2 separate regions of the Homo sapiens genome follow, and region 1 is linked to region 2. The links come from fine-mapping of genetic effects on gene expression. Tissue or cell type: whole blood. Region 2 holds a variant in brackets; the other region holds the start of a gene. All regions are shown on one strand. Distances are between the middles of the regions.

Region 1 (4,390 bases), 22 kb after region 2:
CAAAACCTTTTAAATCTAAAATATATATTAGATTTAGGTATATTATATACATGTGCTATATATAGTATGTAAATATACATTGCATGCATATTTATATACATTTTTCAATACTGGAGAGTGACAAGAGCAGATAGAAATCTTTAACCAACGCTCGCTGGTTCTCTGTATAGTAAGAATCATAAATACCAATGGTCACCTGAAAATGGAGTAACTGGGCTTTTAGGATGTCCAGAAGGAAGAGACAGGAGACTTTGCAGGAAACAAATAAAACCTGAAAGACAGCTACACTTATTGAGCCTCTACTATATGCTATACAGTCTGCTGAGTACTTGATACACACATCAACCCAGCTAAATCTCAGAAACCCCAAGAAGCAAGTCTTCTTTTCTTCAATTTTCAGGTGATGAAACTGAGGATCAGAGAGGTTGAATGACTTGGCCAAGATCATGTAAACAGTCAATTGGAGAGCTGGCATTTGACCTAGTATAACTTACTTTGAAGCCCAAGAGTTTAATCACTGTGCTAAAAACTGTACACGGTTTATCATTCCCAAAGAAGAACTTTCACTCCATCTCCTCCCACTCAAAAAATATAAGATCTCAAAGCAAATCTAGAGACTTTTCTGATAATCTGCACATCTGGCCATTCCAAGTCTTTAAACTAAAGTTGTCTTTTATGTATGGATTAAGATGTCTGACTGTAATAAACCTCGCCCATCTGATTCCAGTCTACCTGCCTAACTACAGCTCCACCAAAGCAAATCTATTACTTCCCCAAGGTATTCAACCCTGAGCAGGTTAAAACTTCACCCTCCATACAGAAGAACTGCTTCCCAGAGACTATGCCAAATCCAGGGGCGCTTTTAGTCACTGGACATTTCAAAATACATGACAGCACAGATTTAGCAAAATAAGTCCTATTGTTTTAGCCCCAAACATATAAAACAAATATCCTGTAACTCCACAAATTGAAAAACTGCAAAAAAAAGTAGGCAAACATTTTGGCAGTTCTGAGTAAGGAAATGTTTGTTTTCCCTCTTGTGGTCACACAACAAATGGTGAAGAGATAAACATCAGTAACATCAGCCTTTTCCCTAATCCAGCACCAACCAAATATTTATTTACATCTACTTTTTGAAGGCCTCTTTCTCGCCTTTTCCACACCAACATGTCAGCAGGTGTCCCAGATTAAACTGTTGAATATCATACCCGATTGTTTAAAAAACACCTTTTGACGGGACCTGTGGCTGGTTATTTTTTAATTAGGGTTTGAAATCCTATACTGTGTGTATTTAGCCCCCTAAGAACTAGAGCCAGAGAAGGACGCCTCTGCGGAGTGGGTTGCCCAGTGGGTGGGCGAGAAGGGAGCCCCCGGTTTCAGAGGGGCTGCTGCGAACTGTACTTCCTGCGCCGCCCCCTCCCCAGGTAACTTACCAGGATACCCATCACGTCGGTCCAGAGTCGGGAGAACGCCTCGGATGTGCCAGCACCCGGCTTGGGCTCCGGTTCCGGCTCCGGCGCGGGCTCGGGCTCCGGCTCGGGCTCGGGCTCAGGCTCCGGCCCCGGGCCAGCTGCTCCCGCGTCCTCCATGGCCGTGTCCCGCGCGCGGGCCGTGCGTCCCAGTCCCCGCGGCGCCCTCGCCCCGCACCCGCGCGCAGCCTGCCCGGATGCCGGGTCCCCGCCCGCGGCGTCACCGAGCCGCGCCCCCGCGCTGCATGCCCCGGCGGCCCCGGCCACCCCGCGGGGGCCCTTCGCAGGCGCCCGCACCTCGGGTCTAGGTGGCCACGGGCTGCGCGACTGACAACTCCAGAAACTTTCCCACCCCGCTCGGCGCAGCAACAGGGTAGCAGGAGGCAAAGTCCGCACCACTGAGTTGTACGGCGGGGAATTCGCTCGGCCCAGAAGCAATTAAACCCACTGCAAAGGCGTTTCTTCCTGTGACGGGAACCAACTAACTAAGGCACGCGACTCGTTCCTTCTAGCAAGTCTTGGCAGGACCCGGCAGGGGTGGCCGCGGAGCCTCTAGATCTTGGAGGGAGCTCCCCGGGACCCCTCTCTTCAAAATGAGCTCTTCCAGCTCCACATGACTCTCTCCCTCGAGGCTAAAGAAAGCGTTTAGCAACAAAAGGTGCTCTGATGTCAGGCTCTTTGCATGGAAATGAGCCTCGGACAGGAGAACAAATCGCCTGTTGAAAGAGCAGCCGCGCCGCGGTCTCCGGCCCGCACAAGTTTCCAATCACGCTATTCACGGAAACGCTTTTGGTAACGGAAACCCGAGAAAGTTAATCTTTAAGCGACTCCCGCCCAAAGGCTTCACAAGTAGTCCGTGTCGCTACAATGCATACCTCGCCCCTCGTGAAGTCAAGCGACCCAAGGAATTACAAATCCTGCCTCTGCCAGCCAAGACTTCTCTGCAAAACAAGTGTGAAAGCTTGGGCACGAGCCATTGTTTGGATCATTTTTTATGAGTGGGGGCATTTTGGCTCCTGAATGCCCACAATGCCATGCATTGCTAGGGCTTTCGGCTAATTAAGGGAAATGCGCTTTGGGTTTTAATTATTCCTTTACATTAGGGACACAGGGAAGGGCTATTTTCGAAACTAAATTCAAATGATTGTGTAGCCAGTCAGCCTACACACACTTGGGGCCCTGTGTGTGTTTTTCCAAGGGGAAGCCCCAGGACAGATTTATTTTATAAGGGAACTAGCCCTGGAGAGGTGATTTTTCCCTTTTGTGATTCTATCTTTCAAGACTACTCAGAGTTTTCCTTGGAAGGTGACAATGCACGTCACATTCGATTTGGTGATTGATCACTTTTGAAACAGTTAAGAAACCACATGGAGTTTGCTCCTCTGTTAGGGCCTTGTGGTTTAAAAGGAAAAAAAAAAGTGAGATGCCCCAGGGAGAGAGCCCTGCTTGTTTTGAGGCCTCTCCTGTTTCTTGTTGATTGTGGGGTTTTTTTTGTTTGTTTGTTTGTTTTGTTTTGTTTTGTTTTGTTTTCCTTCTGAGTCCACTTGAAAGGGGATAAGAGCATGTCCTTGAATTCCCCTTGTTCAAGTATTAAGTGCTGTGAGCACCAATCAATGCAATGGGTGAATAGTCCTTACAGGAAAGTTCAAAATGTAAAAACATTTTCAAAAGTAACTAAATTTATAAACACAATCCCTGATAATTTTTGTGTGTTTTTGGCGGGTGCGGGGCTGGCGCCTGTAATCCCAGCACTTTGGGAGGCTGAGGCGGGCGAATCACTTGAGGCCAGGATTTTGAGAACAGCCTGGTCAACACAGCAAAACCCTGTCTCTACTAAAAATACAAAAAAAAAAAAAACAAAAAAAAAAAACAAAACATAGCAAGAGTGTTGGAACATGCCTGTAATCCCAGCTACTCAGGAGGCTGAGGCAGGAGAATAGCTTGAACCCAGGAGGCGAAGGTTACAGTGAGGTCCTGCTGCTGCACTCCAGCCTGGGTGACAGAGGAAGACTCTCTGTCTCCAAAGAAAAAAAAAGTATGCTGAAAAATTTTTTTAGAGACAAGGTCCTGCTCTCTCACCCCGGCAGTGCAGTGCTGCAATCGTAGCTCACTGCGGCCTTGAACTCCTGGGCTCAAGCAATCCTCCTGCCTCAACCACCTGAGTAGCAGGGACTACAGGCACACCGCTGCACCAGACTAATTTTTTAAATTTTTTATAGAGACATGATCTCTTGCTGTTGCCCAAGGTGGTCTCAAACTCCTGGACTCAAGGGATCCTCCCTCCTTGGTCTCCTCAAGTGCTGGGATTATAGGCATGAGCCACTGCGCACAGTCTCTGACGATAATGTTTGTGAAAGGAAACCAAAAGAATTATTAAATTTCTCCTTAATAGCATTGAGGCATTGTGTTGAAGTAGAAAGAGCACTGAACTATGAGTCAGTACAGCCAGGTCTTGTGCTTTCCTAGGCTGATGCCGGAGTTAGGCCAGATGGGTTTTCAAGGCTCCCTCGTGCTCTGTGATACTTTGAATAAAAATAAATTCAGTTAAGGCTGATGAGGTTTTTTTAATTGTCATTTCTATAAATAGATAAATATAAGTAAATGATAGGAAAAGATAAATAGCCTTTACAGTTGACTGTATTGGTATATTTAAGAATTTGAATTTATTCACCACGTGATACTTTTTTTTTTTTTTTTGAGACAGAGTCTTGCTCTGTCACCCTGTCGCCCAGGCTGGAGTGCAGTGGCACCATCTTGGTTCACTGCAACCTCTGCCTCCCAGGTTCAAGCGATTCTCCTGCATCAGCCTCCTGAGTAGCTGGGATTACAGGCATGCACCACCACGCCTGGCTAATTTTTGTATTTTTAGTAGAGACGGGGTTTCACCATATTGGTCAGGCTGGTCTCGAACTCCTGACCTC
Region 2 (4,390 bases):
CCTATTTTCTTTTAGTTTTACAAATGACAAAATTCAGGCCCAAACCTAAATGCTTGCCGAGCTTATACTCAGGATCCAGACATTGCAAGTCAGACACCAGAAATGCACCATCGCCCCACCAAGTCCGGACAAGACTTTAAATGAAGTTCTTCTTGTTCTGTTGTCTGCTCGTCTCCTTCCAAGTATCCAATATTTTCTTGTGTCTATATCTTAGCAACTAAGTTCCTCAGCACAGTGTCTACCTTTCTTAAACTTCTTCTCAAAAATGATCTCTATGGGTTTTTTTTGGTTTGTGTTTTTGAGACAGGCTCTCCCTCTTTTGCCCAGGCTGGACTGCAGTGGCGCGAACACAGCTCACTGCAGCCACAATGTCCCAGGCTCAAGCAATCTTCCCACCTCAGCCCTCCAAGTAGTTGGAAATACAGGCAGCGCTACCATGCCTGGCTAATTTTTTTTTTTCTTTTCTTTTTTGAGACAGAGTTTCACTCTATCCCCCAGGCTGGAGTGCAGTGGTGCCACCTCGGCTCACCGCAACCTCCACCTCCCAGGTTCAAGCAATTCTCCTGTCTCAGCCTCCTGAGTAGCTGGGATTACAGGCGCACGCCACCACGCCTGGCTAATTTTTGTGTTTTTAGTAGAGATGAGGTTTCACCACTTTGGCCAGGCTGGTCTCAAACTCCTGACCTCAGGTGATCTGCCTGCCTTGGCCTCCCAAAGTGCTGGGATTACAGGCACGAGCTACCCTGCCCGGCTAATTTTTGTATTTTTTTTTTGTAGACATGGGGTTTCATCATGTTGTGCAAGCTGGTCTCGAACTCCTGAGCTCAACGATCCACCCACCTCAGCCTCCCAAAGGGCTGGGATTATAGGGATGAGCCACTACACCCAGGCAAAAATGATCTTTATATTCCTAGCTCCATCTCTCCTTCAGTTAAAGCTCCCATTATGTGAGCCATTTCAGCAAGGGAGAGCAAGACATCAAAGGTGCTTAAGGATCGATCATGGAGGATGCATCATTTGAATTCTTAAAGGGAAATATGGTCATGAGGTGGGCAAGAATGAGATGTACTTCAGTATGACCCCCTCCTCATCACCTCTACCAGGAGAACCAACAATATCTTTGCAGAGAACTCTGTGCCCTGCAAGATGTCTCAGTTAAAAAAAAAAAAAAGATAGTAAAAGAATTTGATCCAATAAAACAAAAAATGGCCATCAGGCTTCCTAAATACTGTAAATGTCAAATGACTGATACAAATAGTAGGTGCTAAAGAATGTGCAAAGAAGAGAAATACTGATTTTGCAATGTCAACAGACCATACGATTTAAAAAAGCAATCATGGGTTGTAAATCATATGATAATGAGGCATGACAGCTGGGAGCTAGCTTGATCACAAAGTACCTGACACAGTGAAATACTTGAAGGGAAAATTTTCTTTTTCCTCTCCTTTCTTTTTTTTTTTTGTGACAGAGTCTCACTTTGGTGCCCAGGCTGGAGTGCAGTGGCACGATCTCAGCTCACTGCAACCTCCGCCTCTCAGGTTCAAGTGATTCTCCTGCCTCAGCCTCTCAAGTAGCTGGGATTACAGGCACATACCACCATGCCTGGCTAATTTTTGTATTTTTGGTAGAGATGGGGTTTCACTATGTTGGCCAGGCTGGTCTCCCACTCCTGACCTCAGGTGATCTGTCTTCCTAAGCCTCCCAAAGTGCTGAGATTACAGGCATGAAGCACTGTGCCCGGCCGGAGGGAAAATTTTTGTTAATCATGGAATGTTCTTAATTTTTTAATATTGGTATCTTTGACTCCATGCTTCATTTGTACTATTTTGCAATGTTTCCTATGGTCAGAACCCTTGGGGATGATGCAGACTCTATCCTTGTGTTCTTCCCATTTCCCGTGGCAGAACCTATTCTCATCTTGACCTTGTATCTACAGAAACCTTCCTTTTGGACTTGAGTCATTTCCTGTCCCAACTATAGCAACTGCTAGCCTTACGTTCTTCTTGAATATTGAATTGTGAACTCTAAACGTGCTCAGGACAGGCAACTTTCACGTTTCAACTTCCACCCTACATTAGTTAGGAGTCTACACTCTTGCTTTTGTAATCCATCGCTGAGCTTGATTCAAAATTACTGATTCCACTGTCATTCTTTTAATTGAGTATGGTCCTCTCCACACACCCCATCGACTTCCCACAGCTAATGGTGAGTGTGTGTGTCCCCAAAGGAAAGTGGAGCAGTGGTGAGCCATCTCTCAAGACTTCAGGGGACCTTTCCCTTCGTGACCATGAATCATCTTCCTTCTCGATCTCAACGTGAAAACTTTCCTTTTCCTCTGCTAATAAGAAGTTTCTTAA[T/C]AGGATGTCTGCTGGGCTGTGTAATAATCTCCAAAGGGAAGTGATGGAGGTTTTGGCATGAGTCATTGACGTGGAGCTGGAGGAAGTAATGGGCAGTAATGGACCAGAGGGAGCAGTCCTTTACCAACAGGATGGGCTGCCGATGAGCTGGGAAATTTTATTTTTCTAACTCTCCATTTTTATATTACTTGGTGAGGACATTTCTCTCAATGCATTTACTCTGAATGAATGGTGGGCATTAATATTAATTTATTCAGGGATCAGAACTTTTTAGAATGTATGTCCCATTAGAGTTTAATTAAAATGTCCATTATAGAATCCACAGGGAATAAAATATCCTATAAGTGGTTTCCATTTTCTCCATATCCTCTTTTACTTTCATTGCTAACCCTCAGCAATCCAGCAAGGAGTGATTTCTGACTCTCCAAATCTTGTAAGATGCCTGCACATCTTACACAGCCTCAAAGACCAGGGAGTGAGGTGGTACCAGGAGGGGTCTGAAGCAGAGGTTAAGAAGAGCCTCAATCGGCCGGGCGTGGTGGCTTATGCCTGTAATCCCAGCACTTTGGGAGGCCGAGACGGGTGGATCACGAGGTCAGGAGTTCAAGACCAGCATGGCCAAGATGGTGAAACCCCGTCCCTACTAAAAATACAGAAAATTAGCCGGGTGTGGTGGCGGGCGCCTGTAATCCCAGCTACTCAGGAGGCTGAGGCAGAGAATTGCTTGAATCTGGGAGGTGCAGGTTGCAGTGAGCGAAGATCGTGCCACTGCACTCCAGCCTTGGCAACAGACCAAGACTCCATCTCAAAAAAAAAAGAAGTGTTGGGAGGCCCAGGCAGGCGCATCATTGGAGCCCAGGAGTTTGAGGCCAGTCTGGGCAACATGGTGAAACCCTGTCTCTACAAAAAAATAAATAAATAAAAAAAATAAAGAAGAGCCTCAATCACTCCGTCCCTAACACTATCCACCGCCACGTCCTCCAGAACACCGTGATTCATCTGATGTTGCATTCAAAGGATTGAGGACAGGGAATTCAAAGGGTGAGGCCAAGGGGTGAGGCAGGGCAGCCCTGTGTTTATGGATATCACCACCAAGGTTCCTTTGCAGCCATGCAGCCCATGCCCAAAACCCTTGGCCAGGGTCCCTGCCCCACATCAGCATATCTGCCCAGACCTAAGAAGCCACTTCAGGAATCCCTGCACCAATAAGACTTCTATGCTGCACTACAACTTTCTCTCCACACCCTCTCTCCCAGCTCTGTCCTGGGTGGCAGTTGGGATAGGTAGCAGTTGAGATTCAAAGAGGAAAACAAAGAGGTATTATCTTCTTTAGGAAACTTTAACTCAATTCCACTACTTGTATGTATGTATGTATTTTTGAGGCAAGGTCTTGCTCTGTTTCCCGGGCTGGAGTGCAGTGGCACAATCATGGCTCACTGCAGCCTCAACCTCCTGGGCTAAGGTGATCCTCCTGCTTCATCCTTCCAAGTAGCTGGGACTACAGTCACACGCCACCACACCTGACTAATTTTTTATTTTTTGTAGAGAAGGGGTCTCACTATGTTACCCAGGCTCAATTCCACTATTTTAAAACAAAGATGGAAAGCATTCCTAAGCCTCCGTTTCCTCATACGACCACACCCTCACCCTCACCTCACTTTCAAAAAAAAAAAAGGCATATAATAGTAAAAATGGCAAGCAGGAAAGGGGAGAAAACCAGGGGCATTAGACTGAGGCCTTGTGTGGGAGGGAAGATGGGGCACATTGCAATCTCTTCCTCATTGCTCAGTCCACATCACTGCTTATCTCATAGAACCTAGTAAGAAATGCTGGACATTTGGCCAGGCATGGTGGCACATGCCTGTAATCCCAGCTACTCGGGAGGCTGAGGCAGGAGAATCTCTTAAACCAGAGAGGCAGAGGTTGTAGTGAGCCAAGATGGCGCCACTGCACTCCAGCCTGAGCGACAAAGCAAGACTCCATCTCAAAAAAAAAAAAGAGGCCAGGCACGGTGGCTCACGCCTGTAATCCCA

What was found.
Region 1: it holds the start of SASH1, and the variant in region 2 is fine-mapped to the expression of SASH1 in whole blood (TOPMed, PIP above 0.99).

What each region holds. Positions count from the first base shown.
Region 1 is chr6:148,340,267-148,344,656 of GRCh38, reverse strand. It overlaps SASH1 (SAM and SH3 domain containing 1), which reads right to left and starts at 1,819. Exons shown (of 20, transcript NM_015278.5): 1 at 1,434-1,819. The coding sequence starts at 1,589. RefSeq lists an enhancer at 2,593-3,172.
Region 2 is chr6:148,362,194-148,366,583 of GRCh38, reverse strand. All of the region lies in intron 1 of SASH1 (SAM and SH3 domain containing 1), which reads right to left. Among named protein-coding and RNA genes, the nearest start is that of SASH1, 22 kb to the right of the region's middle. RefSeq lists an enhancer at 1-38 and a silencer at 1,725-1,925. The variant T/C (reference allele first, on the strand shown) is at 2,358.